Regions from separate parts of the Homo sapiens genome. Here regions 2, 3, 4, 5, 6 and 7 are each reported to be linked to region 1. Evidence: microRNA targets listed by miRTarBase, many of them from high-throughput screens and not tested one by one. Region 1 holds a microRNA gene; each other region holds the end of a gene's coding sequence.

The links. The annotated mature microRNA hsa-miR-3941 reads UUACACACAACUGAGGAUCAUA and lies in region 1 at 2,489-2,510, shown strand. An mRNA with a match to its seed (bases 2 to 7 or 8) in the 3' UTR can be bound and repressed. Matches are read on the target gene's strand: a 7mer-m8 pairs with bases 2 to 8, a 7mer-A1 pairs with bases 2 to 7 and ends in A, and an 8mer does both.
Region 2: the mRNA of COBLL1 is a reported target of hsa-miR-3941. Seed matches in the 3' UTR shown: 7mer-A1 at 2,630-2,636 and 7mer-m8 at 3,521-3,527.
Region 3: miRTarBase lists FOXL2NB as a target of hsa-miR-3941. Seed matches in the 3' UTR shown: 7mer-m8 at 2,598-2,604, 7mer-m8 at 2,610-2,616, 8mer at 3,087-3,094 and 7mer-A1 at 4,022-4,028.
Region 4: the mRNA of RNMT is a reported target of hsa-miR-3941. Seed matches in the 3' UTR shown: 7mer-A1 at 1,496-1,502 and 7mer-A1 at 3,847-3,853.
Region 5: the mRNA of ZDHHC17 is a reported target of hsa-miR-3941. Seed matches in the 3' UTR shown: 7mer-A1 at 2,912-2,918.
Region 6: miRTarBase lists C18orf32 as a target of hsa-miR-3941. Seed matches in the 3' UTR shown: 8mer at 2,185-2,192 and 7mer-A1 at 40-46.
Region 7: miRTarBase lists B3GALT5 as a target of hsa-miR-3941. Seed matches in the 3' UTR shown: 7mer-m8 at 2,467-2,473.

The regions. Positions count from the first base shown.
Region 1 is chr10:122,414,536-122,418,881 of GRCh38, forward strand. MIR3941 (microRNA 3941) reads left to right here and starts at 2,430; the gene lies at 2,430-2,532. PLEKHA1 (pleckstrin homology domain containing A1) reads left to right here. Exons shown (of 12, transcript NM_001001974.4): 7 at 1,324-1,467; 8 at 3,365-3,433.
Region 2 is chr2:164,682,186-164,686,531 of GRCh38, reverse strand. It overlaps COBLL1 (cordon-bleu WH2 repeat protein like 1), which reads left to right. Exons shown (of 14, transcript NM_001365672.2): 14 at 500-4,346. The coding sequence ends at 586. Among named protein-coding and RNA genes, the nearest start is that of SNORA70F, 3.4 kb to the left of the region's middle.
Region 3 is chr3:138,949,870-138,954,215 of GRCh38, forward strand. It overlaps FOXL2NB (FOXL2 neighbor), which reads left to right. Exons shown (of 3, transcript NM_001040061.3): 3 at 396-4,121. The coding sequence ends at 703. Among named protein-coding and RNA genes, the nearest start is that of FOXL2NB, 4.8 kb to the left of the region's middle.
Region 4 is chr18:13,759,425-13,763,770 of GRCh38, forward strand. RNMT (RNA guanine-7 methyltransferase) reads left to right here. Exons shown (of 12, transcript NM_003799.3): 12 at 518-4,346. The coding sequence ends at 555. Among named protein-coding and RNA genes, the nearest start is that of RNMT, 35 kb to the left of the region's middle.
Region 5 is chr12:76,850,233-76,854,578 of GRCh38, forward strand. ZDHHC17 (zDHHC palmitoyltransferase 17) reads left to right here. Exons shown (of 17, transcript NM_015336.4): 17 at 615-3,464. The coding sequence ends at 753. Among named protein-coding and RNA genes, the nearest start is that of CSRP2, 27 kb to the right of the region's middle.
Region 6 is chr18:49,478,657-49,483,002 of GRCh38, forward strand. It overlaps C18orf32 (chromosome 18 open reading frame 32), which reads right to left. Exons shown (of 3, transcript NM_001035005.4): 3 at 1-3,754. The coding sequence ends at 3,689. It overlaps RPL17-C18orf32 (RPL17-C18orf32 readthrough), which reads right to left. Exons shown (of 7, transcript NM_001199356.2): 7 at 2,522-3,754. Among named protein-coding and RNA genes, the nearest start is that of C18orf32, 6.4 kb to the right of the region's middle.
Region 7 is chr21:39,661,151-39,665,494 of GRCh38, forward strand. It overlaps B3GALT5 (beta-1,3-galactosyltransferase 5), which reads left to right. Exons shown (of 4, transcript NM_001356336.2): 4 at 1-4,344. The coding sequence ends at 342. Among named protein-coding and RNA genes, the nearest start is that of B3GALT5, 50 kb to the left of the region's middle.

The sequences.
Region 1 (4,346 bases):
TTGCAAACCACATGTCCAACAAAGGACTTTTATCTAGAACATAGAAAGAACTCAGAACCCAACAGTAAAAAGCCCAAGAAATCCAATTAGAAAATTCATGAACAGATATTTCATCAAAAGATAAAAGATAAACAGATGGTAAGTAAGCACATGAAAAGATGTTCACCATCATTAGCTAGCAGGGAAAAAATACAAATTAAGAGCACAATAAAAGATCACTGCACACCTCTCAGAATGGCTGAAATAAAAGTGACGACACAAATGCTGCCAAGGTTGAGGAGAAACATAATCTCTCAGGTGTTGCTGGTGGGAATGAAAATTAGCCACTCTGAAAAACAGTTTAGTGTTTATGTTTTGTTTTTTTTTTAATAATAAAAGTAAGCTTGTGATTACTGTACAACCCAGCATTTGCAGGACTAGGTGTTTATCGTAGAGAAAGGGAAAATTACATTCACATAAAAACTTGTGCATGAATGTTGATAGCAGCTTTTTTCCTAATAGCTAAAAGTGGGAAACAACTCAAATGTCCTTTAATGGGTGAACAGTTAAACAACTGGTCATCCATCCATACCATGGAAATATAGCAATAAAAAGGAATGAACTCTAGATACAAGGAACAGTCTGGACGAATCTCTAGAGAATTATGCTGAGTGAAAAAAGATAATCTCAAAAGATAACCTTCTGTATGCTTCCATTTACATTACATTTTCAAAATGTCAAAATTATAGTCTTGGAGAACAGATTAGTGGCTGCCAGGGGATTTAGGGGTAGGAACTCTAAAGTTCACAAAGGAGCCTTGGGGTGATGACCAATTCTGGGTCTTAAATGTGGTAGTAGTTACACAGATCTACACATGTGATAAAACTGCATAGAACTGTATAGACACACATAGATGAATGTATGTAAAACTGGTGGAATCCGAATAAAGTTTGTGGGTTGTGCCAATGTCCATTTCTTGTTTTTTGATAATGTTACGCCGTTTCCCTTTGAGGGGAAACTAGTGAAAGGGTACATAGGACCTGTTGTACTTTTTTTGGGCAGCTTCTGGTGAATCCTTATAATTATTTCAAAATAAAAAGTTAACTCCTTCCCCAAAAAAGAGCACTGGTGGCAGGACTTGTGCAAAACAAGAGGAATGGAAATTTGTGCTTTAATCAGTGACAGGAAAATTAAGAGTAAGTATCTCAGATTAATTAGAAAACTCTTCAAAAATCTGTTTCTGACTAATCTAAGGTGGATTTTAAGATTTTCTACTGGGATAATATGAAATAAAAGTATGCTAAACAAGCAAGAAAATAATTTATTTATTTTGCTTCATTTTAGAAAGAAGAAGTAAATGAATGTGGTGAAAGTATTGACAGAAATAATCTGAAACGGTCACAAAGCCATCTTCCTTACTTTACTCCTAAACCACCTCAAGATAGTGCGGTTATCAAAGCTGGATATTGTGTAAAACAAGGAGCAGTGGTGAGTAGCTTAACAAAATACATGAAATAATGAAAAAGGATTACGTTCTAGCAAACTCAAATTAACATGGAAATTGTTTGCTTTATTTTATGAAAGACCCAAAGTGAGAGACCGGCATGCTGAGGAGAGTCAGGAGATAAAATAGGGGATATTCTCTGTTTATAATTCAATGCTGTTATTTGCTTGGTTTGCAGGGGGCCAGGAAAGTTAATGCCCATTACCACTGACTTTCAGTTTAAATGAGCTTTCCTAACAGTTTAATGTTTTAGAAAGTGTTTCTATTCATCTTTACTCATACTCAGGAGTGGGTCAGGGAAAGAGAGCTGTTGTGGGGAGATGGCAGGCCAGCGGCAGGAGAAGGAGTGGTGCCTAGGAGGTCTCTTCCTTGTTTAGGCATTGGCCTGACCTCCGTGGTAAGCTCTCTGACCTTGGGCTACTTACTTAACCTCTCAGGCCCTCAGTTTCTGTCTTAAGGAATATCATATAAAACCTACCATCTAGGGTTTTGTTTTGTTTTGTTTTTGTTTTTTAAGAGATGTAAATAAGAAAGGTGTGTTTCCCTTTGCACAGCACCTGGTACTTAGTAAAAGCTGTTATGGGTTAGCCCAGGTATTCCCATATAATCAGTTCCATGATGAATTTTTTGCAAGAGCAAGTAAATTTACCAATATTTCTAAGGTTGCAACATACCTTAGTATCTAAGCCATTCTTTCTATGTGAACTAAATCTTTAGAATTTCATGAGAAAATTAACTTTAAAGTTTGAAAATGTTTTTTAAGTCTGTGAGTAAAGAAATACTTAAAATTATTTTGGTGGTTCTGTTTGACTTCTCATCACTTTTTGGCAACTCTTAATTTTTTTAGGGCAGCCAGGGGAATGTCCTTTCACCTGTTTGACCTGCTTTAGGCTGAGGAAAATGATGGTGAGGGCAGGGGTTTCTTACTGTACAATGTCTGCAGGTAGAGTCAGAATTCTCATCAGGCTGTGATGCTCAGTTGTGTGTAGATTGAAAGCCCTAATTTTACACACAACTGAGGATCATAGCCTGATGGTTCCTTTTTGTTTTACTCTTAAGTCCAAAATACCAGTCAGAGATATTTAAGTGCTTCTGCAAAAACTGTTATTTTATTGACAAAAAATATTTGTACAAAATAGGTTTACTTTATTAAATATTTAGTGCTTTACTACTATGTATAAAGTACTTGTGGAAGAATTCATATGTTTTTACAGATGGAGAAACTTGATGTGGTTTAATAACATTTCCTGTGTTTGCTCTTTACATGGGGTTGGCGGGGGCGAGGAGTAGGAGGAAGGGGAAGTGCTTTTAAAAAAAAAAAAAGTTTCAACATTAAAAATATGAAATAGGCCAGGCATGGTGGCTCACGCCTGTAATCCCAGCATTTTGGGAGGCCAAGGTGGGCGGATCACCTGAGGTCAGGAGTTTGAGACCAGCCTGACTAACATGGTGAAACCCTGTCTCTACTAAAAATACAAAAATTAGCTGGGCATAGTGATGGGAGCCTGTAATCCCAGCTACTCGAGAGGCTGATGCAGGAGAATTGCTTGAACCCAGAAGGCAGAGGCAGTGAGCCGAGATCGCGCCATTGCACTCCAGCCTGGGTGACAGAGCAAGACTCTGTCTCAAAAAAAAAAAAAAAAAACACATAAAATCATACAATAAAAGATGAAAGCCAGGCACCAGAAATTGAATTAGGAATTCAAAGCCTGGGTAGCTAGAGAGGGATGAGGTTTAATTTATCGCATCTCTAAGGGAAGTAATGAGATTTTTCACTGCTTGGCATGTCTGATTGTGGGTTCATATCAGGGTAATTAAGTGGTGACTAACATTTGACATTCTTAGAAACACAAGTCTTATGTCTGTGTTCATCTCTGGTAGATGAAAAACTGGAAGAGAAGATATTTTCAATTGGATGAAAACACAATAGGCTACTTCAAATCTGAACTGGTATGTTGTTACGTCATAAATGTTGCTATAAGAATGTTTGAAAAGTGTTGCAATGTAGTGATTATATATAATTTCTTGTACTGTTCTGTAGTTTCAGAATAAGTCTAGTTTTTAGAGGTAAATATAGTTTATTTGGTTGTGATGCTTTTGGTTAATGATATTTTTCTTAAATACATTTTTAAGTAAAAAGATCCTATCTTCAAAGCAGCATTCCACCTTGAAAGATCTGAAGATCTCAGAATCCTCTAGTCTATAAATTTCCTCTAAAGGGGCTGTCCTCTTGGGGGGTTAGCCCCACGTGGAGTAGGGAGAGAAGGGCATCCACATGGGGAAGGGGTGGTGGCAGAGATGGGAGAATGGTCACATACACAGTGATTTATAAAATCAGGAACTATATTAAGTATAATAGAAGCCAAGTCTTTTCAGAGAAACAATACTTTTTGGTGAATGAATGTATATCTGTATATATGATGAGGAATGAGATATTTACATAGTTTCAAAGTACCTATCTACTAAAATAGGTATTAAGTATTGTACAAGGGGAAAAAGAGTAACATTACAGTGAGGAAAGTGGTGTAAAGAATTCTGTCTGTAAAAGTCAATATTTAACCCTCTGTATTTCTTTCTCTTGAGATTTTCTTTACCTATTTCACATTGACTCATAAATCACTTCACATAAGATGTTTTTATCTTCCCTGAAGGTAGAATCAGAAATTGAAATTCCCTCTTCGCCTTGTTTGAGTTGCATCCTTATTTAAAATATTGTAGGGTGATCTGAGTCCTGAAATAGCTTATTGGAGACATTGAATGCAATTCTGTAGTATAAATGTCTATCCTACGTCTTCTTTTTGTATGGGATCTTTGAGAAGGGAACTTATACTTTGTTTGAATGAAGTCACCAGAACAGCATTGT
Region 2 (4,346 bases), not on the chromosome of region 1:
AAAGCATTTTTAAAACCAAGGGCTAGTTTTTTTGTTTTGAATAAATAGGGGGCCATTGGGAGGGGGATTTCACGTTAATTTATACCATCAGTACAAAACTTGTAAAATTCATTGCTTTGTGGAATTCACTTTATCTTTCTACATTCTCAGAGGCAGTTTTGGGGAGCCAGAATTACAGAATTAATCTAGCTAAAAATGCTCTTTAACAGCTTGGTTTGCAGTCTGTTTGTGCTCTTGTCCTTTGTGTTGATTTGGTAATTCTGTACAGATTAAGATGTGTTAATGGATTATTTATCTTATTTGTTGTGAAAATAACGACTCTCTCTTTTTAAATTTTATGGTAGAATGAACATTTATTCTTGATTATAATTTATTGAATAATAGATACTTATCATTTACAATTAAGCAGAAGTTAAAATGTGGTAACTGTTGAAAATTGAAAATTAGACAGCTATCCCATTTTAAATTGATGGGTGCAAAGTGTGTTTCTTTCTCTTAGGTTACCATTCCATCAAATACAATATCTGTGAATGGAAGGTCAAGACTCAGCCATTCCATGTCCCCTGATGCCCAGGACGGCCATTAAATGTTACCCTGCCACACCACTGCACTTCACTTCCACTTCAGACCAACTTCATACTAATGGAACATTTTGGCAAATGTATATTCAGATGTACACTAATATATTATCTATTAAAATATTAGAATTTGTGTTGTGGCTTTTAATGCCAGAAGAAAAGTTACCAGAATTTATAATTTATAGTAATTTTTTGATCTTTTTTTTGCCTTAAGAGTTGAATATGCTGCTTTAGAACTTTAAAACAAGGTGTAAATGATTTTCATTTTTTACAAATGAAAAATAATTCCTTTGTATTGATTTCACTTACCAGCACATTCTCTACAATGGTGACTTAGACAAAAGTATAAGATTCATAGACTTTATATTTGTATGACATACAACTAGGACAAACATAGATATGACATTTGCTGCCTCAGTGTAGCAATTGGAAATATTTATAAGTTATATGAAAGCCTGTTTTGGGCTGAAAGAATGATTTAGAAAACTAGTGATACCAAATAAGTATATTCAGTTCAATAATTATTTTCAATGATGAATCACTTAGTGTGAAAGACTTGCCTTGTGTATTCTTTATGTAATTACAAATCACTGTCAATTTTATGGGAAGCTCATAGTATTTTAATATTTTATTAACATGGAACTCTTGTTTTTTTAATCTTTAGAACTTAAATTCTACAAGAATTTTAAATATTTTCTGTATATAATTATGACATTGTCACACAGAAATTACACATTTTATGTGCCAGAAGCCTTAAACATCTTTCTGTGAAAATGCTGATATATTGTGACAGTTATTTCACATTTGATATGTAGAGAGGAATAGGGGTTAGTTTATGTTTATATTGAAAAACTTTAAAGACTATTTGGAAGTTCCAGAAATTCTGGTTTTAATTCAAGTAAAATGATAAAATAGTCATTATATAGTTCAGATGCTAATATTCTAAGTAATAATATATATTTACATTGAAGCTAAAACTGTTAAGCAAAACAATGCCCATTTGTCGGCTTACAGCTCTTCCGGAGTCTAGAGCCTGTTGGTGTTCTGTCCCTACTTTAAGAATTTAATTGCTCACTTATTCTGAAAGCTTTGTTCAAACAAGATGATATTAAATTTGTTTTCACTAAAACTACTGGGATATCTGCCTCTTGGGGATTTTTTTTTCAATTTAATAAAAGCAAGTTGTATATTTGGGGTGCTTTTTAAAATATATAGTTTGTGTCAACCAGCATATTTATTTCCCTTACCTGATGCATACATTTCTATTAGCCAGTGAACAAACAAGAAATTTGTAAGATTTACCATTTATCAGGGATCCCTAGTGTACATTTAAGCCCTGGCATTCTGACTCCAAAATGCATGGTCTAAGCATTTAAAATGTTTAGCATAGTTCCTGATACATGGCATGGCCATCTTAAATGCTAAATGTTGCTGCTGTTTTCCTTGAATCAGTTGGAGAGACCCTCATATATAGATACTTAAGTTATGTTGTTATAAGCAAGTAGAGAAAGGAGTGAATTTTTTTTAAAAAATTGTGTTGTCATAATTATCTACTTATAAAAATATAAATTTGGATCCCTAATTTAAACCTTCATATATTTTGAGTTGGATTGAAGACTTAAAGACAAGCGACATGTAAGATGTTTTCAATATATTAATATATAAGAAAGGCTTAATTTATGAAGATATGAAAGTTCCTACAACTCATGATAAGTCTACCTAATAGAAATATCAGCACATTATTCTTACAAGAGGAAATTCAAAAGGCCAACAAACATGGAAAAAAAATACTCTTCACTGATAATCAGGGAAATACAAGTTAAAAACATGGAAAGGTACCACATCAAATTAGCAAAAACGGAAGTTTCAAAATAGCAAGTGTTGTCAGGAACATCAAACAGTGGGAACTCTACTGTTGGTGGGAAAATACACTGGCATAACTACCAGTTCTGCAATATCTAGTAAAATTAAAGATTCCTTACCATGTTACCTTAAATAAGTACTTATGCACATGCATAAGGAGACATCTGCAAAAATGTTCACGGCAGCCTTGTGTAAAACAGCAGAAAGGGGTCCTAACCCGTGCTCAGCTTTAGTAATGCATATATTCATATGATAGACTTCCACACAGCAGTCCAAATGAACAAGCTAGAGCTATATATGTCAGCATGAATACATCTCAAAAACAAGTGACAAGAGTGAGTGGTGGAACAAGTCGTGTTTTATGAAATTAGTTACATAAAGTATAAATATAAAAAATGATACTATAAATTATGGCTGTATATGTAGGAAAAAAATTTGCTGGTGGTTACCTGTGGGAACCAAGAAAGACTGAATTGAGATTTATAAGAGGCATCAATTGTGTTCGTAGTATTTTATAAACTGCTGTTTGAAAACAAGTGCTTATTATATTCTAAATTCTAGTATACTTGTAGTTTATAATTATAATAAAATAATGTTTTAAAGGTCACATAGGATTTAGGGGGCTATGTATATAAACCATTAATACATGTATGTTCTGAAAAGTTGCCTTATCGACACCATTTTAGGAGAACATGTGCTATCCTGTCAATGGGGAAAGAAATTTGTGACAAGTAGTTTTCACTCATCATATCCTAAAATAACAGCACAAGGAAGATACAGGAATGGTCTAGAACCAACTTTTGACTTTCATGTATAATTTTTAGCATCTAGGCATTTTGCTTTTCCTTCTTTCCTCCAATCAAGTTATTTATTTATATAATATTAAAATTATAATTCAGATTACATATATATGATAGAGTATAAAATACATTCTTTTTCATCCCCAGCATCCCACTCTCCTCTCCAAAGATAGCTGTTAATATTTTGATATGAAGCCCTATATAGATGTATTTATATGAAGTACATGTGTGCAGGTTTGTTGGGGGCTTTTGTGTGTGTGTGTGTGTGTGTGTGTGTGTGTGTGTATGTGTGTTTCTTAACATGAAAGGAGGTCACACTCTAATACTATGTAACAACTTGCCTTTTATACCAGCAGTGTTCTGGAAGAGCTTTTCTTTTTACACATACAGATCGATCGTATTTCTGTTAGCCATTCTATTGTTTCTTGCTGCGGTACATAATGTTGGCTGGAGTGAAGAGATTGGGGTTCAGATCACAAGTCTGCCACTTATGAGTCATGGGATCTTGGGCAAATTACTTTCTCTATGCTTCATTTTCTCTTCTGAAAAATGAATTAATATGAATAAAAATGAACCTTATTTTAAAAACGGCAGGCAATTCATCTTTTAAAGTTACCTGATGTCAATACTATAAGTGAACAGGTATTATTTGCCTAATATACTCCCTATTCTTTGAGGAGTGACCCTTCTTCCGATTTCACCTCTTCATGAACTGCCAGATCTGGCCTTGGCCACTAGGCACTGGCAACAGCATACACACTCTGTCATCTTATCCAAGTCCTTGAAATGAGACCAATCTTTGTCCTGAGACTTAGTTACTTATAGGTGCTTAAAACCCAAAGCGTCCCAATTGATACAATTATGTATGTGTCTAATTCCAGTTTACTTTGTACCCACTACCAGTAGAGAAAATAAGTATCAAAGAACTAAGAATCAAACTCATCATTTTTAAAATCTACTGATTTTGATAACTGACTTGAAAGAAAAGAACTTGCAATTAGAGGTCATAGTGAAGATTTCCAGGGTCAAAGTGATTTCTGAGGTTTTAGATGTAAAAATATCTCCTATTTATTTGCTATTTCAGAGTTGACAACAAGATTTTTAT
Region 3 (4,346 bases), not on the chromosome of region 1:
TCGGGATCCTCTCTGAACAGGGCATACTGTGCCTAGGTTTTGTGGACGCCAGGGCCGGTTCCTTTTCTCCCCGCGGCATTGGGGCGACGCAGGGCCCCCGGCTTAGTGACCTTGGGGCGGCGCTCACCTCCAAAGGCCAGGGTGGTGGGCTGGGCAGAACTCACTGCCTCTTTGCCCCAGTTTTCCAGGGTCCCGCAGCTGCAATTCAGCAGCCACCGGCGCCTCCTGACCGTGGTCCCACCGTAGCGCCGCCTGCGGATACGGTTCCAGTGAACCGCCGATTGAGCGCAGTCTCAGCTCCCGCGCCTCCTCGCAGCCTGGCCCCGCGCCTCGGAGGTCCCGACAGCCGGCGCGAGCAATCTACACGGCTCTGATACAGACGCTTTTCTCCCCAGGGCCGGGAATCCTGCAACAGCGGCAGAAGCCGCCCGCGCCTCGGGCTTCCGGCGGCCCAGCTCTACTAGGGAAGCGTCGCGGCTGCTCTGAGGCAGGCAGCGCTTCGCTAGAACCACTCAGCTCGTCCCGCGCCGCCGCCGGCTGCCTGAACCAGGTTCCGCTGTCCCCTTTCCTAGCGGGACCCCGAAACACCCGGCGGCTTCCCGCTCCTGAGCGGGAGAGAATAGAGCTTGCTGCAACCCTCTGCTTGGAGGGATGGCCTCTGCGGTGCTTGGCTAGCAAAGGGAAGCTTCACTGTGTCTATTAGTACATCCCCATACACTCCACGCCTCAACAACTGTCAGCACTCACTCCCTCCCGGCCCCTCACAGGGCCCTTTGCACCCACACCTCAGGGACTCGGTGTCCCTCCACTCAGGTCACGTTACTCCATCCACTTCTCTCTCCTTCTCCCTCTGTCAACTCCAAATCCCCTCTAGTTCTCCCTCCCCTCCTACTTCTCTCACACTCACCAGCTACACGTACTAATTCAGATTTTGCACATGTTGGTGGAAAACATGTCAAGCCAATGTGCAGACCCTAAGGCTTTTCACACGCTGCTCACTTTCGCATCTCACGGTGCAGAAGGACCAATGGGCTCCAGGTTTACAAGCCTGACTCCGAGAAGCCTGTTGATTCTCTGATGTCCTTGGCCTGTGATTCGGGTGACTGGGCTGCCACCTGGGTGTTTTCATGATGGGACTGCCGCACAGACCACAGAGAAGCTCAGGTACTGAGCACGTTCCAGATACACTTTAACATGCACAGGCCACTCACACAGGCTTTATCTCTGTCTCGAAACTCTGCTGAGTTTGCTGCTCAGACCAACAAGGTGCAGCAGCAGACACCCACATAGCACCAGGTCTGAAGCCAGTGGGTATTAGTCTGCCTGGTTGGGATTAGCAAAGTCAGTTACTCACATATGTGCTTGGGAGAGAATAGGGGAGTGGAGAGAGAGAGAGAGATATTGAGGAAGAGGAAAGAGAAGCGACCTCCTACTCTGGGAAGAACTCACACATGAGAGCTGTTTCCTGTTGTTAAGTGTCTCACTGAGCTCCCCTCTTTCTCCCCCAGGAAGGGCTTGAGAGGCAGTAGACCAGAGCTCTGGGCTCCTCTTTACCTTGCTGATGTTGGGGTATGAGTCCTCCAACACCATTTTGTCCCAAGGAGTATGTGCCCCATCGTCAATCAGGCAGAATGCAGGGCAGTTGTCGGCCTTTTTCATGGTGGAGGCCAACTGGGAAAAAGGCAGAAGGGTCTGGGTCCTGGGCCAAGTGAGGCCCTCTTCCCTCCAAAGACCCGTGGGATGCTCTCAGAGGCGGATTCTAGGGTGGTGGGAGCTGCTGACAAGTTTCCTCTGATATCCCTCATGACATCTATGGCCCAAAGCCATTTTGTTCAGCTCTGAACAGTGAGTGCCTTGCCAGTAGGCCTCAGGCTTGCTGGGGAACATGATGTGTTCTTAAAAGTTGCCTTGTTGCCTTTCTCCACACCCAGACTGTAAGCGCTGATGGGCAGAGACTCTGCCCTCCACTTCTCACTCAGTGCTCCCCACCAGGATGGGCTTAATGCCTTTTAATAGAATTAGAAAATGGTTCTGCTGGACAGAATTGGGAAATGCCACTTTCCTTATAATGAAGTTATAATGAAGTTAGAATTTCCAAGAAAGGGACTGTAGCTGAGGAAAAGCGGTTTGATCATTGACAGCCAGCTCAGGATCTGAGAGTTCTTTGCCATTTGGGGTTATTATAGCTGCATGGCCATGGTGCTGAACCTTAGGCAAGGGCAAGGACACCTCCCTAGTTCCCAGTCATGGTGAGGACCTGTCTGAAACATTCAAACTAGACTTTACTGGAAACAGAGAAGTCTCTGCATTCAGGGCAGCTGGCTTGCAAGGTAAGGCCTGCAGTCTCCACCCGCACGCTAACCCATGAGGGGATGCCAGAGAGAGCCCTTCCCCCTTGGTCCTCATTCCTGGCTCAATTTTCTCCCACAAAGCGGGCACTTTCTAAAGATGATAGGCAACTGCCATGGAGGAAGGCAGTTTTAGATGCCTAGCTGGCACAAAGTCCAGAGGAAGGGAGGGAGAAGGGCTGAGTTTTGTATTACTGTTCTACCTTTGGAGATTTTCCTCATGCCAAGATAGGGTGTGTGTGTGTGTGTGTGTGTATGTGTGTGTGTATGTGTGCACTATAACTTTATGAAACACTTTTTTTTTTTTTGAGACAGGGTCTCACTCTGTTGCCCAAGCTGGAGTGCAGTGGTGCAATCTTGGCTTACCGCAGTCTCCACCTCCCAGGCTCAAGTGATCCTCCCATCTCAGCCTCAGCCTCCCAAGTAGCTGGGACTATGGGTGTGAGCCAACACACTCAGCTAATTTTTTTTTTTTTTTTTTGGTATTTTTGGTAGAGACAGGGTTTTACCATGTGGGCCCAACTGGTCTTGAGCTCCTGAGCTCAGGGTGATTTGCCTGCTTCAACTTCCCAAAGTGTTGGGATTACAGGTGTGAGCCACCATGCCCAGTCAGTTTTTTATTTTTTATTTAAACAGTTTTGGGGGAACAGGTGGTTTTTGCTTACATGGATAAGTTCTTTAATGGTAATTTCTGAGATTTTGGTGCACTTGTCACCCGAGCATTGTACACGGTACCCAGTGTGTAATCTTTTATCCCTCATCCCCCTCCTACGCTTCCCCCCCCGAGTCCCCATTATATAATTCTTTTTTTCTTCTTTTTGAGACAGAGTCTCACTCTGTTGCCCAGGCTGGAGTGCAGTGGCATGAACTTGGCTTACTGCAGCCTCCTGAGTTCAAGTGATTCTCCTGCCTGAACCTCCTGTGTAGCTGGGACTACAGGCATGCACCACCATGCCCAGCTAATTTTTGTATTTTTTGTAGAGATGGGGTTTCACCATGTTGGCCAGGCTAGTCTTGAACTCCTAACCTCAAGTGATCTGCCTATTTTGGCCTCCCAAAGTGTTGGGATTACAGGCGTGCGCCACTGCGCCTGGTCCATTATGTCATTCTTATGCCTTTGCATCTTCATAGCTTAGCTCCCACTTATAAATGAAAACACAGGATATTTGGTTTTCCATACTTGAGTTACTTCACTTAGTATAATGGTCTCCAGCTCCATCCAGGTTGCTGTGAATGCCATTATTTTGTTCCTTTTTATGGCTGAGTAGTATTCCATGGTGTATATATATCACATTTTCTTTATCCACTCATTGGTTGATGGGCATTTAGCCTTGTTCCATATTTTTGTATGCAGTATAACTTACAGATGGTAAACAATATACAGCTTGATGTATTCTGACATGTAATGCAGTATGTAACCACCACCTGGATCAAGATATGGAGCATTTCTGGCACTTCAGAAGGTTCCTTCATATCTTTTTCCAATCAATATTGCCTCAAAAGGGAAACCATATTTGGATTTCTATCACCATAAATAACCTTTGCCTGCCTTGAGCCTCGTATAAATGGAGCATATAGCATGTATGCCTTTATGTCTAGTTTTTTCTGTGCAACATATTTTTAATATTCACTGGTCTTGTTGCATGTGTCAGACATTTATTTCTTTTTATTGCTGTGTAATATTCTAGTATTTGCTTATCCATCCATATGTTGAGGGACATTTGTTTCCAGTTTTTGGATATCATAAATAAAGCTGCTGTGCACATTGTTGTACATGTCTTTTTGTGAAGGGTATTTTACTACTCTTGAGTGAACTGTAGGAGTAGGCATATATTTAGTTTCAATAGATTCAGTCAAACAGTTTCCAAAGTGATAAAACCAAATACAGTGATATACAGATAGACAGACATACTTTAACAGGGCCTTTCCCTTATAGATAGCATTCTCTAAAAACCACTATTTAGCTGCACTTGTTATTACTGTTGTTATAAATGGAAA
Region 4 (4,346 bases), not on the chromosome of region 1:
TATTGATTGTCGTAGAGCTTTTGGCTTACTTTCTTCACAAGGCCCTACAACACAATAATTGGATAATTGGGTGAATTGTTAACATGTCATGTTATGTATGTTCCTTTAATTCTAGTTTTCTAAAATATCTTTAATATTTTTAATTCTAGTTTTCTTTGTTATACTTATTTAAAATTTAATTTTATTATAATTTTAATTTGTTATACTTCTAATTTAGTTATACTTTTATTTTTCTTACCTTAAACTGATTTTTAGAGCTGTTGAACTGGTTTTCCCATGGGCTGCAATATCACTGAGTATTATAGTAAGTAGATAATTGTTTTAAAGTAAGCAAGTACCATCCCATGTCTGCCTAAAAATGATTCAAATAATAGAGGAACTCTTAGAATTAATGGGGATTTTCCTCTTCAGAAGCTGCTTGAGAGCCTAAGAATTTTCACCAAATTATGAACAAGACAGATTGTTTTATTTATTGTAATCATATGAGAAACTGAACTCTTATTTATTTCTTCTTTAGGTATTTACTTGGTGTTTGCCTTTGAGAAACAGCAGTGAGCACATAGGCAGTAGTCCCAGAGGGGCCGTGTTCTGTCCTGCACAAATTTGAACAACTCATCTCGATATATTTGATATTTCTCTGTCTGTTGATTTTAATTCTAAATGTGCAGGATGCTGCCAGAAACTCCAATGTAGAAATTCAACATTTGCTGTCTGTGACAGATGAACTTTTGCATGTGTATATAAGAATGAGTTGGGACCTCTGTCTTTAAAAATCTATTTTTAGGTAATGTTCTAAGAATTCCATTTGCCTCTATGATCTTAGCTCATAAAAATATAATATGACTTGATAAAGCAACTAAACTCTTTCCACAGTGTTCAGATTTGTCCTGTGTGTGTTTACAGTATTCAATTTATTGCAGTTATAGAATTGGTCAGAGAGCATTTTCATAGTGTGCTCATTTCTATGGTTTTGTTATATAGCATTTTTCAACATTTAATGGTCTGTACAGTTGAATGTAAGTGTTCAATATGTATTGCTGAAGTTATAAGTTTAAAACTCAATTTCAGATGCTCATAAAAGTTACTTAGCTAAAATTTTAGCAATTTATTGCATTTTGAAATAATCATTAACATGCTGCAATTCAGGAGCTGGTTAGAACATTTTAAGTGGCAGCATAGAATTTTGGAATTTTGGGGCTTTCTTTTCAGAAATTGCTACCATAGTAATTAATGTTTCCAGTTATCAAGATTGTGATTAGACACATTTACCTTTCTTCATTGAACAAATGGTGCCATAGTTATTTTTCTCAAAATTTAGTGAAAATCCCTCCCATGTAGACATGTTGCACATTTTTTCCAAATTTATACATGGAACTGCAGTAGGAATATTCTCACCATCTGATGCCATGTACCCACTTCAGAAATAAGCAATACTTGTTCCTCTGTTACAACCTCAGCACTTTGCACCGTAGGAGCCATTGTTAAAGTTGTCACTTGTGTAACTGACTGCTTTTCCAAAACTGGTACTTATGTGAACTGTTGTCCTTGCTTTACACCACCATTTGGAAAACTTACCAGTTTTTAGATGTAGATGTAGTGAAAAACTTCAAGAATGAAGCAGAGCAATTGAGTATTCTTTTTTAAATTATTAAGCCATGATTTACAAAAACATTACTTTCTGTAATTCACAATACTTGTTTTAAAAACATAGTGTCTTCATTAGTGTGCATCTATTAACTGTTCATGGTGTTAGAGTTGCAAACTTTTTAGCAAGAAAATATGGATTTCCTCATTTCAGTTCCTTCTGCAGCCTGTGAATCTCCACAAAGTGTTACCAGTTTACAAAAATAAGTCTTTTTGCCTTAAGTCATTTTGGAAATAAGTAATACTGCATCTGACTCTGGTGGCTGTATTAGCTAGGAAAGGTTTGTAAATGGTGTCAGTGAGGTGGGGAAAGGAAGTCTTCCTGTCACATATGCAGGTTCGTTTTCATTCTAGGGCAGTGCCAGGAAGTATATTGATAGCTTTGTAGGTACAGGAAAAACATCATCATTATTTCCTCTGTTCACATTTACTGGTCTTAATTAACAGGTAATAATAATACATGTACTTTTAGCCTGAAACCTCTTCCACGCCATGGGTAACTTGGGGGAGAGAAGAATCCTCCAAACGATGGAGTAGCCAGTGGTAATACAAAGCAGGGAGAACAGAAAGGTAGAGTTACTAAGGCCTTCAGTGAACAGAAAGGAGCAGAGAGCAAGATTAGATCTGAGAAGATGCTCTGGGGACTGAGCCCACTGTTGTTGGTGTCAGGGAGGCTTACTGGAGCCACACCTGCAGGCGCTGTGTTCAGGCACCACCTTCCTCCTTGAGCTTTGCCTGTCTCTTGCCTTATCAGTTCTTCCTCCACCACCCTACACCCCCCTCCCCCCGGCCCCAAGCCCCTGTGTCTCCTTGTTACAATTAAGTTTCTGGATATTGACTTAAGAACTGTTAGGAAGAGGACTAGAAAAGGCTTCCCCTGCCTATCCTCTCCGATCACCAAGGTGGAAGGGAGCTAGTAGGACTCTTCCTTGACACACCTTGTCGTCTAAATGTTCGGTATTCTATTCAGGACTTACGGTAACTATTATGAGGGAGGCATGGCTTTCCACCGTCGGGCCAGGAAGAGCACCTGTTGCTGCAAGCTCAGTGAAGTGGGGCACTCCCAGACCTGCCATGCAGTTTATCCTCTGAGAATGGAATTGGAAATGAAGACCTAACCAGCTATTGGTGGGAATGACGGAACTGGGGATTGCGATGATTGATCTGGGAACATGGCTGGATTGTGATTTAACCAAGAATGCTGATGTTGAATTCTTTGGGCCTAGAATATACTTGAGAAAGCACTAGTGGCTTGTGTTCAGGGAGAGGAGCTGGCAGTTTTTAACCACTTCTGTGGGAGCCGTGTTCTAACCTGTGGAAAGTATTGCAATTCTGTGAGAGTGACTCTGCAGAGTCACTGCACCATCAGGCTTGGCCCTGCTGTGCCTTCAGTACCCAGCCAGGTTCTCTGGGTCCAGGGTGACTCTCCAAAGAAATTGGCCTTCAGCTGGAGAAAACATTGGGTGGAGACTCTCACTTATGTTAATGCAATCTTGAAATGACTGAAAGGTAGATTGCCAGCACAGTGAGTTTCCCAGCCTGCTCCCCCATCCACACTTGGAAATTGAGGGAGCATGACCGCTCTCTGACTTCACATGTTAATAGAGGATCAGAGCAGAGTTGGGAGTATATTGGTCAGGATCATAGAAAAGAAGACAAAGCTTGCTCAGCCATGAGATGGCCAGGTATCCAGTTTTGTTAACTCTCTTTGGGAATTTCTTTTTCAGCCTGTTTTTTAGCTTAGTGCCATTATGTCATTTTGATTTGTATTCAAGTACTCTTCAAGTATCTTTGTAATGAAGGTTTGGCTACTTGTATAGGTCTGCCTGCAGGGTGAAAATGCCAGTGTGAATATTCTAGCTACCAAACATTGTTTTTTGTTGAAAAACTGACTTTCTGTTGTCTACCTCAGGCCTTGTGCATTTGGGTTATCTCAAGCCAGTCACCACAGAGGGTCTCTAGGGTCTGCAAAATAGAGGCCAAATCCAGGGACCAGGCCCTAATAATAGAAGTTGTACCAAAATGCCTGTGGTACTTGATGGCCTGTTGGTCAAATAGGAAGTACAAGTGTGTGATGTTAGAACCTCCCTAGTTGCTGCTATATCAAACACTGCACACTTGACAAGTGTTTTCATTCCCCGCCCTCTGACAGAACAACATTCCTAATTCTTTGAAGGCAACCAGTGCAAAGGCTACTACACTTGTGTAATGATATTTAGCAGATGCATACAGGACTGGATCCCAGGGCACTGTCAGTTCTTCCCTCCCTCTCGTGCTGCTCAGTTTGTCCTCTGCTCCCATGTAGGCCTAAAGTCACCCCACTCCTTAGTGCCTGCACCTCACCACGATATTGAGGAAGCACAGGACATCCAAGGGTACTCTCCAGTTTGGCTGTGGAGACTTGAGCAAGCCCTAAAGTCCCCTGCTCCCTGGACTTCTCCTGGGTTGTGCTTTTTTGGGGGCAACATACCTTGGACAAAGCTGAGCTGACAGCTAATGTTTATTAGCCTCCTACCTAAGTCAGTCACTTTGCTAAATTCTTCACCTGTGGTAACTCATTTTGATTGTTATAACATCTCAGCACCGTTATTCCCATTTTAATGATGAGGAAACTGAGTCATAGAGGATACAGACTTGCCCAAAGGAGAGCCAGGATTTTCACACCCCCTCCTCAAGCTGGGCCTGCCCTCCAAGTGCTTGTT
Region 5 (4,346 bases), not on the chromosome of region 1:
TGCTTTTCTAAAGGTGTTACTGGAGTACTAAAATTTCATGAACTTATCCTTGACATTTCTTTTTTAAGTTGTTATCCTTAGGTTCACTGCCAGATTCATGCTATTTATAATTATTTTGTCTTTTACTTTTTTTCTGTTTTAGAGATAGTTTGTCTCCTGCCAAAGAGCCACTAATTAAAGGTTTTTATCAAAAATTACATATGGAGCCAGGCATGTTGGTGCATGTCTGTAGTCCTAGCTACTTGGGAGGCTGAGGTGAGAGGATTGCTTGAGCCCAGAGTTCGAGGCCAGGCCGGGCAACATAGTTAAGACCTCATCTCTAAAAATAAAAATAAAAATGCATATAACACAGAAAGTATATGCACATTTGAATAAATTTAAAATATAATTGTGTAAGTCTTTAAATTGGCAAAAGAAAAAATCATTGTTGGCAGAGCAGTGGAGAAACATGAAGGCATATATATTTTATAGAGTTATGAATTGGTTCCTTCTTGCAAGTAACCTGAGTTTTTAAGTTTAGAAAAAAATATATTTAACACGAAAATTATATTGAATTCATGTATTAAATCATTTGTACTGACTGACGTGTTTTCTTTTTGGGGTGCTGTTTTTAGCCATGGATGTGTAAGAAATATTATAGACTTCTTTGAATTTCGATGCTGTGGCCTCTTTCGTCCTGTTATCGTGGACTGGACCAGGCAGTATACAATAGAATATGACCAAATATCAGGATCTGGGTACCAGCTGGTGTAGCGACATCTTATCCTATGAAGCATATTGCTGAGTGGTGCCTGAAAATTGTGTCTGTCCGTGTCTTTCTCACACTCGAATCCACATCCTTTGAACAAGAGCATGCTATGTGTAGGGCTAATGGTGAATTTTACAGTCTTTTTTTCAACACTTTTATTAACAAAAGTAAACATGGACAGAACACACTGCCATTTCTGGGAAGAGTAAAGATGATAAAAAATAATTTTAATGGTTCTTAATGTGGAAATTCACAACATACTCAACTTTTGGGTTTTGTTCTCACAGTATTTTTCACAAAAAAAGGGTAAACTTATTCTATTGACAGACATGGTGTACTGATCAGAAATGTTCAGTTTTAACTAAAACTAAATTTATGTTATTTGGCTAAATGTTATGATGCAGTCTAGTACGAGTATTGCATCTAATTCCAGGAGCATTGTTTTAAGTTGATTGACTAGTTATTATGTACATTTCAGAATGTACACATAAATACTGTGATGAAAATCATGTGATTGGGATCTACTGTGATGTTGTCTTCAAAGGCAGGAGAAAATAATGTTCACAATAAAATGTGCTAACAATGTTTTGTTTCTATCAGCTGTTGCAATGCTGATATATTTCTAGTTCAGTGAAATAATTTGTAGTAACCTTACTCTGAGGTTTTACGGTCTGATAATGAAGCACTTGCATGAGTATAGTAAGTCATGTTTTTTTGTTCAAATTTAAAAGCCCTGCTAATTGCATGACACACCACATAGAATGTATACTAGCAGATACTATCCAGTGAAGCATAAATTAGAATTTAATTTGATGTTCAAAAACAGTTCCATTTTTAAGGGTTAAGGTGGTATTTTCAAGAAAAGGCAGAACAAATAATGCAAAATTCTCAGTAATAGTGATACATGGATATACTTCCTTTTAAATTCTCAGCTGCAAAATAATTGTAGACAAAATAATGGCATTTAACTAAAGATGGAGCATGATCTAAGTACATAGCACATGTGAATAAAAGAAAAGCTGACAGTATATTCTGGTTTCAATAAAATGACCTATCAGAAAGTAGAATTTCATCCCCAAGAGTATTTCAGTTTATCCAATATTGAGTAAGTTCTGAAACAGTTTTAGAAAAAATTTTCTTTTTGTTAAATGTGATGCACTGATCAATTTTTGTCACAGCATTTTCATACCTTCATGGTGGACTACTAGTCACTGCTTCCATAAATATTGTTTACAGGGTGAGATTTGGTTTATTCATCTTAAGTGCTGTAGCAAACTGTGGTTCGAGCAACCTGTGGGAAATCTGTGAGAGGGAATGGGGTGGGAGATGTGGGGGAATGGTGGTCAGACTGATGACAGATCCTAGACCAATGTAAAGAATGTGTATCTGTATATAAATAATTTATCAAATAGTTTTCTCTTTGTGTCTGTGTTAGTGTTTTTAAAGCTGCTCATTTCATTTTGTCCAACCAAAAAGAAAAGGGAGATAACTAATGAGCTTCTAGTGATGTTCAAAATTGCTGTTAATAGGCATTATACCCTGCAAGTTCACTGCATGTCTGATGCTTGGTAAAACTAGTCTTCCCTGTAAAATGCAGATTACAGGTATTAAAGCAATCTAGTGGTATACCCGCCCCTTGCCTTAGTAAGAGGAGCAGTGAAATGTATATAGTTGATGTTCAGTATTTCCAAGTACCATTTTTATATAGTAGCTTATTTGACCATAAGTCACACATCAAAAAAAGATTACCCTTAGTGTATGTGTTTTAATATTAGAAAATTGGCATATGTACTTTATTTTTGAAAAGGGAAGAGATGGGTGTGGGGTGGCAATAGCATTGTGCCATTTTGTCATAGAATGTAAAAATTGGTTAACTTTACAAATGTCAGCTAGTTTTGACTACTAATTGGGGGAAATTTTAGATAATTTTTAAATTCAAAGTTATTTATAAAATGCTAGAATTTGTTTTAATTTTTTGTATTTTGAGCCACTTCACATGAAGACTCAGTTGCATTTTTATCGAATACATTTTTATCAACAGTTAAAGACTATGGTGGTTTTTTCAGAGTTTGGCTAAGAATGTTGTTACCATCTTCTTTGTTTGTGGTACAATATTTTCAGTGCAAAAGAGATGTCATTCAGTTAAAAAGACAAACCTCTAGATGTGTAATTACATGGAAAATACTAGCAATGTGAATGCTTTTGTAGTAACCATCTTGTAGTACCTGTGAAATCTATAACTCAGAAATGGTCAGATGGTCAGGAGCCAGCTATGCAGCAGTATACCATCTGTTTAATTATTTTGTAGGTCCTGTGTGTGGAACCAACTATAAACCCAGTTCTAAAGTTGTGTATGATGGTGAACCTTTGGGAATAGTTCTTATCAACTTAATTGGATACTTTTAGCAAATAGGAACTTAATTCTCAGCACTGAACATGAATTACTTCCTTGGAGTTTTTTTTCATTCATATTTTTGTTGTTTCCAGGAATTTATTTGATATTAATGGGCGTAAAACAGCATCATTGTACTTAAGCTATGGATGTTTTTATTTTATATTTTCTTTATTTATAACTGTGCCAAGTATTATTTTGCTACTTACCGTGTTATTCTGTGGAAAGAAAAACCTGTAAAGTGTTTAATAAATTAGCCCTCCTTACATAAATTAAATGTCAAAATTTTGTAAAATATTAATCAGAATAAATACTGACTCTTAAGTGTGTGCTTATGATTTCACTCAATTTACTTCAGGAAATTGATGAAATGATAGTGGTACCTATGATATGAAAAGATTATACATTTATATCCTGGTTAACTAGGAGTCAAGTGGCATAAGACTGTAGGAATTTGGAAAAATAAAAGATGGTGTTAGTATTCTAAAAAAAAAAAAAAATTTCCAATCCTGTGTGTATGCATGTGTGTGTGTGTGTAATTTTTTTTTAAATAAAGATAATAAATTTTTTAAGAATTTTTGAATTCCATGTAGTTAATTAGGATCCTCAGGGACTGTATGAATCTCCAAGTTTTAAATATGTCTAAAGATACTAAAGAAAAATATTGCAAAATGTACTATATAAAGAAAAATACTGCAGAATGAAACCTACCAAACGTTGATCTCAGTTACTTGAGAAGATATGCGTGGCAGAGAGAACTTCTTTATTTGGGACTTTAAAAGGCAAAAATTATTAAGGAACTGTTTCCTGTTGTTCCAGTGGTTGTTAATGGTTTGAGAACCCAGTGGTATTAAACAGGAATATTTTCAAATTGGACTAATACTCTATCCATAATTTTAGTCTGGAGTTCAAGTAACAATATCTTGAACAACTGTATAAAGTAAAGCCGCTAGTTTTCATTCCACCCAAGTATTTTCCTCCTCATTGTCTACTTTTTATCTCTCCTAGTCCTTGCTAGATTGATGTATCATACCTGATATGGATGTCTGAGTCTAGGAGTTTTTAGACATAATTGGAAACAAGTGGTATATACCAGGACAGAAAATCTTAACATCTTGTCAGAAAGTAAAGTGCTTGTTATCAGAGTTTTCTATTAAATATATTTATGTGACTTAAAATAGAAAAAGTAGATTGAGCATTCAGAAT
Region 6 (4,346 bases), not on the chromosome of region 1:
AACAAAGGGTAGCTCTTACTAAAAAGGCAGCCCTGACCTTTACACAGACAGATGTTGATATTTTAGGGCAAAGAAACATTTGTGTGGTATCAAACAGTGGCTACCAACTCCAGCCCATGGATAACTGATAAAAGCTTTTAACAATTAGCCTCCAAAATAAGAAAAATATGAACAAAATAGTGAATTTTTCATAAAATTAACACTTTTCATACGCTTATTCAAACTGATGGCTATTTTTGTCCACTATTCCCATGTTCTTTTTCACTCTTCTGGTGTCAAACTGTCTTTTACGAAATACTGGTAATAAATTGTAGCTTTTTGATATACTCCTGCTTGGAAAAATCAAAAGTTGGCAATTGCATACTAGCCACCCCTATCCTGCTTTTAAAATGTTGCTAGTATGAAAACAACGACTGGGAACCAGTGTTCTAGAGAGGGAGACTTGTTAGAAATGAGAAAGGCCTTAGGAGACCCGCAGCTCTCTGGAAAACAGGCTTAAATAAATTGGAATCATCCCGGGGACACTTTCCAAAATTATCCATACTCAACCTCCTAAAAGTATTGAATTAGAAAACTGCTGTGCTACAGAAAAAATGAGGGATAAACCAAGAAGGAAGAGGATAGGAAATCCAGAAACAAGACGTCCAATACAGGAGGGTGGCAACAGAAAGTCCCGAGGACTGCAGTGTGCACCAGGTCTAGGCAACAACTAGGCAGGAGAGGTGTATGGGGAGAAGGTAAACTGGTCACTCCAGGAAGACACCACCTGTATATTAAAAGGGACGCAATCACAGTGCATTAACCTGTGCAGTGAGCAATAGTATTCTCCCAGGCAGTGTCCCAGCAAGCCAGATAGCACTCTTGAGAGGAAGCAGTAGCCCAGAGCCAGTAACAGAAATACCACCACCCCTGGGCCCAAAAGGGCAGGGTGAAGGACAGGTTAGGAAAAATAAAAGAAGTCAGGTGGAGTTGGCTGCCTGGAGTGTTCCTTGAGGCACAGTGACTTCTGGCTGAGGAACAGTTGGCCTGAGGTGACCTTGCAGAGAGAGGGCCAAGGGAATAAACACTCTGCCTTCATTCTCCTCCCTCCAGCCATCTCCTGCTATGGATCGCTATTGGCCAAACCCAGCAGAACCCAGAGACATGGGAAGTCTGTTGATGTCTATACAGCTTCCTTGGGCTGAAAGCAGGATGAGGGGAGCAGAGACTTGGGAGGGGCAAATGAAAGACACCTGGCACACTCATGCTATGAACACTGATGATGTAAGCAAAATTTACAAAAGCACTTGGGAGGATGTGTGGGAGGAGCAGAGGCAGTGTAAGATAGCGGCATCTCAACCATTATGGGAAACAATGTCTGAAGTTGATGGCTCAAAATATAACAGTATAGCCAGGCAGTGGCTCATGCCTGTAATCCCGACACTTTGGGAGGCTGAGGCAAGAGGATCACTTTGAGGCCAGGAGTTTGAGACTCGCTTGGGCAACAGAGCAAGACCCCGTCTCTACAAAAAATTAGCCAGGCGTGGTGGCACACACCTGTAGTCCTAGCAATTCAGGAGGCTGAGGTGGGAGGATCACTTGAGCCCAGGAGTTGGAGGCTGTAGTGAGCTATGATGATGCCGCTGCACTCCAGCACCTGGGTGACAGTGAGACCCTGTCTCAAAAAATAAAATGTTTATATTTTTATATTTTTATAATTTATTTATAAATATGGAGATAAATTTAAAAAGCCCACAGCTCAGTAGGTAAAACCTTTGAGGAGCAAAGAAGTAGGGACAATTAGAAACGTTGCAATATTACTTAATTTTTAAAAGATGATGTGTGGGCCAGGTGCAGTAGTAGCTCATGCCTGTAATCCCAGCACTTTGGGAAGCCAAAGTGGAGGATCGCTTGAGCCCAGGAGATCGAGATCAGCCCAGGCAACATGACGAAACCCTGTCTCTATAAAAAAAATTACAAAAAACATTAGCTGGGCATGGTGGTGTGCACCTGTAGTCCCAGCTACTTGAGAGGCTAAGGTGAGAGGATCACTTCAGGACTGCAGGTCGAGGCCATAGAGAGCCGTGATCATGCTGCTGCACTCCAGCTTGAGTGACAGAGTGAGACCCTGTCTCAAAAACATAAATAAATAAAAATGATGTGCATATTTAAGAACAAATTAATTTTCAAAAAGTTGCTAGAAGGTTACACACAAAATCAACTGGGGCGGACTCTGGATGCACTGCCTATGAATTAGCCTTGCTCCACAAGGAGCAGCACTGTTCAGGAAAAGACTACTGTCTAACAAAAACAAACCATACAACAACAACAACAAAAAAACAATTGGTTACCTCTGTGGAGCTGGAATAAGGGAATGAGAGTTGAGAAAAAACATTCGCTTTTCATTTAGGATCCTCTTGCATTGTTGTACTGTAAATATCTGTTATTTTTATAATAGTATTTATACCTTAAAAAAGTTTATTTGCTAATGAGAATTTATCTTATCCCTCAGGTGGCTTTGGACAGAAAAGCTGAGACCTGCTGATTTACATGATTTATATCAAATAAAGCCCAAGGTAAATCAGTGACTTGACCAGCCACAGAACTTAATAGAGCCTGAGTTAGGACCCAGACTTCATTAGGGACCCAAGGGCAGGAGTTCCTTTTAATCTTTCCCAGCTTCAGAGTGAATACAAAAAATATATAAGGATGCATCTCATCATCTTTGAATATTTATAGGTCCCTACACTGAATTTTCAAAGCCCAAGATAAAAATCACATAGCGGCCCAGGTCCAGACCCAGGCCCAGCCAGCCATATGAGTGAGCCCAGAACAGCAAAGAACTGCCCAGTCGAGTCACTGCTGCTGAAAACCACTAAATTTTGGAGTGTCTTGTTACGCAACAATAGTAATTGTTGTCCCACCACTACACAGATGCCATCACAACATCCAAATTCTGCCTTCTGACGTGGTGAAAAATTTCCCTTTTGAATATTTCAATAGACTTTAAAAGAAAATGAACTACCAGTTAAACTGAATGTTTAATACATTTGTAGGAACAGAAGAAATGCAGTAAGGATTAAAATTTTATAATTAGACATTAATGTAACAGATGTTTCATTTTTCAAAGAAGTTTCCCCCTTTTCCCTATCTTTTTTTAATCTTCCTTAGAGCAATAAATAGTAATTACTATATTTGTGGACAAGCTGCTCCACTGTGTTGGACAGTAATTATTAAATCTTTATGTTTCACATCATTATTACCTCCCAAAATTCTACCTTCATTTCCCTGCACAGTTTCACTGGACTGTTTCACAACAAAATTGTACTCCACTCAAATTAGAAGAGCCCAAAGAAATTAGAGCAAACAGCAAATTCATATGAATTAGAGAACCAAAGATTTTAAAGTGCTGATTTAGTAACATAATGTCTACTGGCACAAACCTTCTATTTAATCATATTATTCAAACAGCAATAACAGAAATGAAAGCTACATTAACGAAAAAGGAACTTAGGAATGAGGTCATTAAATATAACTAACTACATTTTAAATACGGATATCATATATTTCCTGATTAGTATCAGGTAAATATCTAGACTCCTATCCTGAATTCCGGTCTCAGATAAAAAGGTCAGAGACAATTACAAGGAAGATGCTTCATATTATCAGGTCCATTTTTTAAATGATGGGGTCCTTTAGGAAAATTTCTTTAGTCTTTCTTTTTATCACAGATTTCTGTTGGTCCTTTTGTTGGTAATCCATTCATGTCTGCACCCTAAAATGAAAAAACATTTTAGAAATTATCATAACAAGCCGGGTGCGGTGGCTTATGCCTGTAATCCCAGCACTTTGGGAGGCTGAGGCAGGCAGATCACGAGGTCAGAAGATCGAGACCATCCTGGCTGACATGGTGAAACCCCGTCCCTACTAAAAATACAAAAATTAGCTGGGTATGGTAGCATGTGCCTATAATCCCAGCTACTCAGGAGGCTGAGGCAGGAGAATCGTTTGAACCTGGGAGACGGAAGTTGTGGTGAGCCAAGATTATGCCACTGCACTCTAGCCTGGTGACAAAGCGAGACTTCATCACAAAAACAAAAACAAAAAAAAAAAAAGAAAGAAATTATTACAACAAAAAGATATTAAGAGACATTCTGTCTCTCTCTTTTTTTTTTTTTTTGAGATGGAGTTTCATTCTTGTCACCCAGGCTGGAGTGCAATGATGTGATCTCGGCTCACTGAAACCTCTGCCACCCAGGTTCAAGCAATTCTCCCACCTCAGCCTCCTGAGTAGCTGAGATTACAGGTGCCCACCACCGCGCCTCACTAATTTTGGTATTTTTAGTAGAAACAGGATTTCACCATGT
Region 7 (4,344 bases), not on the chromosome of region 1:
TGGTTTGTCAGTAAATCTGAATATCCGTGGGACAGGTACCCACCATTCTGCTCCGGCACCGGCTACGTGTTTTCTGGCGACGTGGCGAGTCAGGTGTACAATGTCTCCAAGAGCGTCCCATACATTAAACTGGAAGACGTGTTTGTGGGGCTCTGCCTCGAAAGGCTGAACATCAGATTGGAGGAGCTCCACTCCCAGCCGACCTTTTTTCCAGGGGGCTTACGCTTCTCCGTATGCCTCTTCAGGAGGATCGTGGCCTGCCACTTCATCAAGCCTCGGACTCTCTTGGACTACTGGCAGGCTCTAGAGAATTCCCGGGGGGAAGATTGTCCGCCTGTCTGAGGGGAGCCCAGAGGCACATCCGGACAAGTTTCAGATAACCCGTGGGGATAGTTTTTGCTAGATTTTGGAAGAGGGGGCGGGACAGAGGATGCTGTTCTTCAGTGCTGAAATCCACGCCAGAATGTCGGTGTTCATGAAGTCACTGATTAGTTCCCACTTGGTGCCCCAGGCAATAATAGGCCCGTCTCTTGGGCACGCACACTCTTCATACTAAGTGTTTGACATACACCTGGATTTTTGCATTTCAGGGGTCAGTATCCTATGACATGATGGGTGTTACCATCCTAATTTTACAGGCAAGGACACAGCAGCTGCGAGAGGTACAGAAACTTGTCCCAAGGCTCACAGCCAGTAGGCATAGGAGCGGGAATGAAAATCGAGCACTGTCAGAATCTGGTGGGCAGCCCCTGACTTGAACCACTCCCACGTGCTGCCTCCCTTAGGAGGGGACACTGATGATGAGGTCTCGGAGCCGGCATCCTTCCATCCCTGTCGAGTCCCCTCCACCTCAGCTCCCAGTCCTTGTGCTTTTTGGAGCTAAGCCTGGGATGACCAAATTCACCCCAGCTCCTTCATTCACAGGGCTGGATGTAGCTGGGATTGAGTCCATGTTATCGGCTCGGTACTCAACACAACCCAAGTTTCATCCGAGGAAATGTCCCCGCAGTGGATGCAGCTCACATGCTGAGGAACACCCAGCTCTGGACAGAGTTCTTATAAATGTATAAATTAGGCTCAGAAACCACTGCATTCTGACCTGCTGTACAGACTGCCCACACTGCTGACCTGCCTAGCGAGCAGGACATCCCTTCTGAGCCATCTGCTGCTCTCTCATTTCATCACCCCAACTGTCCCTTGTTTTTGATCAATGGGGACCAGCCACTGCCCCAGGAGCACTTTAGGGCTCTCAGTTCAAACTGAAGGACAGTTGAACTCAGATGGGGTTCATGTGGGATTCTGGGAGCTTTCTGGGAATTCAGTTGGAGTCAAGTCAGGATGCTCTCAAGGACCCCTCGGGCTCAGAGCCCTAAAGTGGGCCCTGGTGAAGCAGGGTGGTCCTGCGTCCACTTCCCAAGCCTGAGCCAAGCTCATCTTCATTGAATGTCTCATTTGGCCGAGGAACAACTGAACTTTGTGGTTTGCTGTTTAGCCTTCAGTTTGCTCCGCTGCCTCCTACCCAGAGGTTTGTGCGAGCCTGTGTTGCAGGGTTGTATAAAACCAAGGTACTTCGTTAGTTTTGCCCATTCAGCCATGGTCACGTGACATGCAAAGTAATCTTGCTCCTAATTATAGAAATGATTTTTCTTTTAATTTTTTACTTTACCAGACTTTACTTTGTACTCAGAGAAGAGGCCTCACATGGCTGTGTCACATATAAATGTTGGACTAAACTCTTACTTGAACTCAGGAAAAGTTACTTGCTGCAAAATGGTTTTGACCATGTTCAATTGCAAAAGTACGTCTGATATCCTATTTTGCATACCATTTCTTGTGTTTGGATTAAGCTGCTTCTTTGTAGATGTGTTTCCTCATCCTGGCTGCTCTGAACGCACTGGGTCATGTTCAGAAAAGCCTCCTTCTCAGGTGGAAAAAATCAGGGACTGAGCTTGTCTTTTGAAGCCCAAATTTAAGAGCCACGCCTCTCGGTTCCATAGGATGGGCCGCCTCTCATTCTGAAGATGACTGTGCTTTGAGGGAGAAGTCGTCTGTTTGGCAGTAGGCCTGCGTCTGTGTTTCGTGGTCTACCTTGTCAGGTGTGTGTCTGTGTGGCCACTGGTCTCAGTCGGCGAGGCCGGTCCAGCTGCTGCCTCTGTGTGACTGGCTTTGGGTCTGGCCTTCACAGCATCAGCTCACAGCCCACAGCTCCAGGGACAAATGAGGACAGGCGTGGGCTCTCCCTACTGCTTCTGTGTGTTCTTAAAGGATTTTCTTTGAGACCCATTGTTTCCCCTCCCCTCCCCTCCCCTCCCATCCCCTTCCCTCTTCTTTTCTTTTCTTTTTTTCTGACAGGGTCTCACCCTGTCACCCAAGCTGGAGCGTAGTGGCCTGATCTCGCTGCAGCCTTGAACTCAACGAGCCTCAAACGAGCCTCCTGCCTCAGCCAGTGGGTAGTTGGGATTACAGGTGTGTATTTCTTTATACAATGAATAATTCTTTTTCTTGAGGAAAAAACATTATTTCATGAATCTAGAACTTGAAGGAACCTTAGAGCTCATTCAATCCTGCCTCCTCTTTTATGTGGGATGCAAACGAGGCTCAGAGAGACGTAACAACTTGCCCAGGACCTTCCCAGCTTGTTTGTTGCAGAAGGAGGGTTCCAGCTCAGCGTGGGTTTCCTGGTGCTGTCTTGTCTGGATGTGAGAGTGAGAAACAATGTGAAAGCATGAGTGAGGAGGCCAAGCAGTGCTTCCCCAGGAACACCCAGCGCTAGCTCCAGAGTGGGAATGGAGAGGTCCAGGTTGGCCGGGCCGGGGCTTCACCGCAGGCACCCAGAGAGGAAGGATTCCGATGGGCAGGTGCTGAGCTAGGGGCTGTGTAGGTATTGCCTCATCTACATGCTCTCAATGAGTTTTCCGGGGGCAGAGACCTGCAGTTGCTCAGGTTTACAGATTAGGAAACTGAGGCAGAGAGAGAGAGGGTGAACAACTCATTCAAGGTTACATAGGTGAAAAGTGGTGGAAACGGGGTGACCCTAAGCTGCCCTGTGGCCTCCCCAGCCACCTGCTGACGGAGCTGTGGGAGCACATTGCATTGGCTGCTCCCACTGCCTCTCTGGGGTGCCTCCTCAGACTCCCCCAACCATACACGCCTACACCCAGCCCCCAAACCTCCGTACTCTGCCTTCTACTGTGACTGTGGCAGAAGCCACTTGGCCCCCGTGGTGCCAGAACCCCTGGTATTGGACTGACTCCAGCTCTTCTTCCACAGCTCCTGATGTGGCCTCACTCTCGTCCTACCACCTGCTGTCCCCTCTGCTGGATCACCCCATTAGCACACAGACACGCTGCCATTTTCCACCTGACCAGAAATGGCCACCACCTTCCCCGACCCCTTCCCTGACCCCCTTCCCCGTCCCGCTGCCCCATCCTGTTGCGTTTCTGGTGGAACCCCGCACGAGAGTTTTACTTGTCTGTTGCCTCGTCCTAATCCTTCCCTTCTTTCCCAAATGCCGTCTCATCAGACTTCTGCACCCCCACTCCACCCACATGGCCCTTCTCAGGGCACCCACCACCCCCTGTGGCTGGGTCCTGTGGGCAGTTCTTGTTCTCCTCCTGCTTGACGTGGCGAGTCCTCATCACCAGCTTCCAGGACACCGGGTGCTCTTGGTCTCCCTCCTCCTTGCTGCTCGCCTTTTCCATCTCCCCTGCTTGCTCCTTCTCTTTGCTCTGACAGTGTCGTGCTGGAGGATCCTGGGCTCTGCGTGGGGCCCCCTTTCTTCCCTGGTTATACCCAGTCCTCCGAGGGGCCCACCTTGTCTCATGGCTTTAAATATGTTGATGATGTTTCCATTTATCTCCAGCCTAGAACTCTTTCTTGCTCTTCAATCCACTGCCTACCTGATTTCCCATAGTGAACAATCCAACACTGACCTTCTGGTTAACTGCCCCACATCCAGCCCATCTGCAGCCATTCCCGTCTCAGGTAATGGCCACTCCATCTTCCTGCAGCTCAAGTGGGAAGCCCTGGAGCCATTCCGACTCCTCTCCCATCTGGTGCATCAGGAAAGACTGTGGGAACTACCTTCAAATTCTCTCCAGGAGCCAACCACCTCCTGCCCCTCCACTGCGACCACCCTTGTTCAAGCCTGCATTGCCTCTCACCTGCATTCGTGCAGCTACCTCCAGACCCTCCCTCAGCTTCCATTATTGCATCCTTTGGTCTCTTCCCAGCAGCATCCAGAGTGATCCTTTGAAAATCTCATTTCTCTGCTCAAAACCCTCCTGAGGTTTCCCATCACCAAGGATATTAAGGATAAAAACCACATCCTTCATACCATTGTCT